Linked DNA regions of Homo sapiens: region 2 is linked to region 1. Evidence: fine-mapped expression QTL. A gene starts in region 1. The other region holds a variant in brackets. All regions are shown on one strand. Distances are from middle to middle. Region 1 holds the start of SOCS2-AS1 (SOCS2 antisense RNA 1). Region 2 overlaps CRADD (CARD and death domain containing adaptor protein).

Region 1 (2,801 bases):
TATTTCGGGGGCGGGTGCGCAGACAAGGAGATGAGTTTCCACTAAGGCCAGGGGGCCTCCAACGGGGTTGGAGGTGAGAATCCCAGGTAGGGTAGAGGTGCCGAGATCCTTCCGAATCCCAGCCCTGGGGCGTCAGCCCTGCAGGGAATGGCAGAGACACTCTCCGGACTGAGGGAACCGAGGCCAGTCACCAAGCCCCTTCCGGGCGCGCAGGTAAGGGCGCCCCCTTAGCAGCCGGCGCAGGTGACCCGGGCGGGCCGCCGGGTCTACCGGAGACGTTGGAGCAGAGGGGAGGAGGAAGGGAGGAGCCGGGTGGGTGCGGGTGACAAGGAGCCGGAGCGCCAGGGGGAGGGGACTAAGGACGGCCGGCGCCGCTTAAGGAGGCGCTGCTCTCCCGCTCGCTGCCTTCCAGGACCTGATCAAGGGGACCGCCTCCGGTCCCCGGCCGTGGGCACCGGGACGAGCACGGCGTCCCCACGCCATCGATGTGTCTTAGAGCCGGAGAGTCTGGTTTCCGAGGACCCACAGTCGCTCCTGCACGCCCACCCCCCGCAAAAGTGCGGCCAGGAGGGTCGCATCGAGGGGGCGCCGCCGGGATGTTTAGAGGAACCCACCCCCGTGGCAGGCCAAGGGCCAAGGATCGCTATCCTTCCCTGAACCCGGGCGCTCAGCTGGCCCGGGTAGGGGGCAGGCTCCGGCCGCCGAAACGGGGTTGGCTGTAGCCGGTGGCCGGGGAGATCTCTAGCTTGCGCCCGAGCACCCCGGGGTGTGGGGCCAGAGGCAGGCCGACCCCGGCGTGCACACCGCCCGCCCTGCACCCGAGCGCTCTCACCCGGTCTTCCCTGAAGCCTGTGTATTGCGACCGAGCCTCTTTAAAGCAGTAGCGGGGCCCGCGGTCACGTGAGGCCGATTCCTGGAAAGTTCCTGGAAAGCCGCCTCCGCAGCAGCCGGGCGGGGCGCGAGCGGAGCGCTGACTGGGGAGGGAGGCGGGGAGCAAGGGAGGCGCGTCGGTCTGGGAAGTCGCGCGCACTCGCTGCTCCTGGGACCGACGTTTAACTCTTGCCAAGTCTCGTCGCAGCCGCCGCGGCTGGCGGGCCTTGGGCTTCCCCTGAAGCATGAGCCCTCTCGCCCGCAGCCACCCTCACCGCGTGGCCCGCGGACAGTGCGCGCCGGGGTCCCGGGTGCACAGCCTCAGGATACCCCGTGCCCGCAGCTCGGGCGCCCGCGGCAGGTACCGGTAGTGGGGGAAGCCCGAAGGCTCCGCCCCGAGGAGAGTTACCGGGGAGGGCGGCGAGGCGCGGCCGCGTGCGCCGGGGAGCGGCGGACGGCCTGGGCTTCCGCAGCTCGGAGCGCCGGGGAAGAGAGAGTCCGAACCGCGGCTCTGCCCCGCGGCCTAGCGTTGCTGCCTGCTTTCTCCAGCCCCTTCTCGGCGTCTGGAAGTGTCTGGAGTTTCTTTTTTTTATTTCCCCTAAACTGCCATTCAAATTAATAATCCTCCTAATAACCTGATCTCCCGCTCCTCCCCACCGGCCTGCCTCCCGCCCTCGCTCCTTCCTCCCTCCCTCCCTCTCTCCTTCCCACCTCCAGGGTCGCAGCCGGAGGGAAACCCGGCAGCAGTCCGAGAGTGGAGGTGTCCCAGCCCGTAGGGGGCGTCGCCGCGCGGTGGGGGATGGGGTCGAGGCAATGATCCTCGAGGCTTTTGTGTGCCCTCTGCGCACGGAACTCCGACCGCCGCCTCCGAGCGCGGGGCTGGTTGCATCCCCGGGCATCTCGTTCCCAAATTAAACGTTAACGGGGGAAACAAGGGCAGACGCCCCTCCTCTCCCGGGCCCCTCCCACCTCCCCTTTTCCCCCCACCCCCCCGCCCCATGTCCGCTGAGGAGGCTGCCTGGTGCGGAGGCGGCGGCGGCGGCCGCGGCCGAGGTCGAGGTAAGAGCGCGGCGTTGGTGGTTTGCATTTTCCGCAGCGCTCGCGACCGCCCGCTCGGCCCCGGCCTCGCCTCGGAGCCCCGCGAGGGCTGCGCGCTCGGGCCGATTCCTCGACAGCGCCCGCGGCGGCGAGAACCACCGCAGCCATCCTGGTCCGGGAGCGACCGCCGCGGCACCCCCAACCCCGCCAGAGCGGGCACCAGGAAGCGGGGGGAGGGGAGCGAGGAGCCTCCCGGGCGGAGATGCGGCAGCTCCCGCACCTCCGCACCCCGGGTTGGTGCCTCGGGGCCCCGCAGCGCTTTAGGGCGGAGAACCAAGTTTGTGTGGGTGCTTCTTCCTGGGGGCCCTCGGGCTGCGCCAGGTGTGAGACCGGAATGCCAATTTGGGGAATCTCTCCTGTTCTTTCCTTTTTAATTTTTTCTACTTGTCCTTGACAAGGGCCTATTCCCACTGGATCTGCAGGTGACTATTTGCTCTTCCTAGGTCGCCAGTCTTTGATTTCAGCTAGTGACCCTGGGCGGGAAGACACCCTGTTCACCCTCCTCCTGACCTCCGCCCCCCACCTCTTCAGCCAACTTTATCTTGGATCTCTGCTCTCTTTATCTTTTCTCTAGAGCTGGGCCAGGGCGCTAACTGGAAGCTTGGGGTTAAATGGTGCAGGAACGTAGAGGCGGAGGAGTCCCTGGGATTTTCCACGTCTATTTCCCCACCCCCACCCCAGCCGCAGGGGTCCAGTTTGGACTGACCCAACCTCCCGCTTTCTCTTTGTAGGCGATCAGTGGGTGACCGCGGCTGCGAGGGACTTTGTCATCCGTCCTCCAGGATCTGGGGAGAAAGAGCCCCATCCCTTCTCTCTCTGCCACCATTTCGGAC
Region 2 (2,801 bases), 170 kb after region 1:
ATTGTTTGTGTAACTATAGTTTTTTTCTAATAGAAATAAAATGTCTATTTGCAGGATAAAAAGAAGTATGTATATTTGATGATTTTGTTGTAGAAAATACTTAATACCTTTTAAAAGCTGTTTGACTTTCGGTTTTAAAACAGCTGTGTAGCTTGGTGAGTCCTGCAGATTCCGGCTTTCTCTGTGGCCTTTGAGCCAAGTAATTTTTTGCAACATTTTCCTTTGCTTTCTTATAAACACTCAAAAATTATACTTGCTTTTCCTGAAGGCCAGCTATTAAGTTAGAAAGCACCAAAGGTGTTATGAAATTGCCCTTTATTTTTTCGTACATCAGGGAGGAATGATAGATTTTGTGTATCTCTTGTGTGTCATTAGAACAGAAATATTTAGGGCTGCTAACTCCCGGAGTTGTGTACTTACCCTTATTACAGATGCAATGATTTTGTCTGACTGCATTGCTTTAAGATGAGTTTTATTGCTTTCATGCTTAGGCAAGGATATTTAATTTTATTTGTGTTTAGAGTATCTTGTTGTAATATACTTCTCCCCCATCTTGTGCTCCTAAATTTGGGATAAGCATAGAATCCTTTTAAGAATGTAGGTTATTTTCCAGTTTACTAGAAAGCATGACACATATAAATTAGCGACTAAGGATTATAGCGTCCTTTCCTAAAGGTTATCATGAAAAAAAGTTAAAATGTCAAAGAAGATCCTACTCCAGTAAAAACAATTTACTCTGTAAAATCCTGATACCTCATAGGAAGCTTTGGATCTTGTTCTCAGCTACCAAAATTCTTTAAATATGAAAGTTAACATGACAGGAAAGTGGAATACACTCTGTGCTGAAGACCCACTGTTCAAGGTGTGTGGTTATTAATCTGGGTTTGAATTTACAAATTATATGGTCTGATTAATTTGTAGATAGGGGTCGGTGGAGGTTAGACGATGGGCTTTAGAACAAAGAGGCTGATAAAATACTACTCACAAGCCTTTCTGCTTGTTTGTGACTCTCTGGAAATGCCATTAGATAGTTCTCATAGCTATGGTCAAAATAAGTAGGCTTAGAAATAAAAGACATTTTCTCCCCTGTAAAAGGAGGCGGCTGGCCTGTGCTCTTTCTAGGCTCTTCCCAGAGACAGCAACCTCGGCTTCTGAACCCTTAGTGCTCATTCTATGCTCCACCGCGTCTCCTCTACACGCCATGATCTTTGTTATCTGATTTGCTAGCCATTGTTATGGAAAGTTCTCGACTGTAATGCAAAAAGCTCAGCCTTGGGTCCTTGCTAATGTCAGCAACCCAAAGGCGCCCCTCAAACCACCTCGAAAAGAAAAATCCTTTAAAAGATGTCAAACTCTCCTTTCATGTTAGCCCAAAATGAAGTTCCCGAGCAGCATCTGGCAGAGCAGGGTAATTCAATCTATTTTAATGCAAAGATTTTCCAAGAAGGCAGGAAGCCGTCAAGGAGAAGGCTTT[G/C]AGGCATCTGCTGTTTTGTTTCCAGATCCCTTGTGTTAATTTAATGTTTCTAGGGAACCCGGCTCTTTCTTTTTTCTCGGAATCCCTGCTCTAGGAACTGGTGAGTGCGGGGGCGCTGTGGGAGCTGCAGATAAGCCAGCGCTTGGCCGGGCACCCGCGGGCCGCGCAGCGGGGCAGGGAGGCGCGCGGCCCCAGCCGCCCTAGGGCGCCGGCTGCCTCTGCGGGCCCCGGCTGCCCAGCCCAGCGCGGGGAGGCGGCGCCGACTGCCGGGGGGCGCCTGCAAGACCTGTTTATTTGCATTTGTCCAATTTGGCTCAAGTGAAAGGTAAATACGGAGCGATCAGCTTGTCCTCACTCCAGCAAAACCAGGGAAACTCAGCTCCATCTCCAGGAAACAAACCCAACCCAAACCTGAGTGAAACGTAAATCTTGCATAAACAAACACGTTCTTTTGCTTCTGGGAAGGAACACCGGAGAAATGGGCATTCCTTCCGACTGCCCGCCTCCCACTGTCGGTAAAAATGAGCCGTCACAGGTTGCCGGCAATTTCTTGTTGTGTCCCGAGCCATTCCGCGGATCTTGTTTTGAAGGGGCGAGTCAGGTGTTTGTGCGGCTCCAGATCCTGAACAGGTTATGCGCTGGGTCCTTCCTTATCAGGAGGGGGGTCAGGCTGCCCTCCCATTCTCATCTTCCGCCCCAGACCAGAGGCTACACCAAAGTTCACTTTTGAAAAGAAATCCTGCAGAATTAAAAATAAATGTCTGCCCTTTAAAATAGTTTCGTTTTAGTATTATGCATATTTCTGTTTAGGAACTTGTAATGCTAATAATTTATGTTGCTATGACAATTGTCCTGCATACCTAATATTAAATTTAATGAATTAATGTGGCGTATAGAGTAATAGTAACTTAACTAGTACTCCGATAATGCCAGTATTCCCTGTGTTACTAAGTTAATGGAATCAGAATTTTGGAGTTACAATATAGAGGTTTTTTAGGCCAATTTTTCTATGGGATTCTAGGGATCTTTTTATAACATTTCTGCTTTTCGAAGCAGTCTATACCATTGCTGGAGAGCCGTAATTACTAGGATGCTATTTCTTTTTGTTTGTTTGTTTGAGACAGGGTCTTGCTCTGTCATCCAGGCCGGAGTGCAGTGGGTCCAACTCAGTTCACTGCAACCACCACCTCCTAGGCTTAAGCGATCCTCCCACTTCAGCCTCCCCAGCACCTGGGACCACAGGCCCTCGTCACCGTCTGGTTAAGTTTTGTATTTTTTAGTAAAGATTTGGTTTCGCCATGTTGCCCAGGCTGGTCTCGAATAGAAC

Evidence for each region.
Region 2: its variant is fine-mapped to the expression of SOCS2-AS1 in whole blood (TOPMed, PIP 0.90).

What each region holds. Positions count from the first base shown.
Region 1 is chr12:93,569,986-93,572,786 of GRCh38, forward strand. SOCS2-AS1 (SOCS2 antisense RNA 1) reads right to left here and starts at 1,413. Exons shown (of 4, transcript NR_038263.1): 1 at 1,280-1,413. SOCS2 (suppressor of cytokine signaling 2) reads left to right here and starts at 2,690. Exons shown (of 2, transcript NM_001270471.2): 1 at 2,690-2,801. RefSeq lists silencers at 457-506, 567-756, 1,127-1,406, 1,767-1,816, 1,827-2,136.
Region 2 is chr12:93,740,759-93,743,559 of GRCh38, forward strand. The region is part of intron 2 of CRADD (CARD and death domain containing adaptor protein); the gene reads left to right. Among named protein-coding and RNA genes, the nearest start is that of CRADD-AS1, 4.3 kb to the left of the region's middle. RefSeq lists enhancers at 560-1,516, 1,517-2,473 and silencers at 1,560-1,729, 1,760-1,849. The variant G/C (reference allele first, on the strand shown) is at 1,475.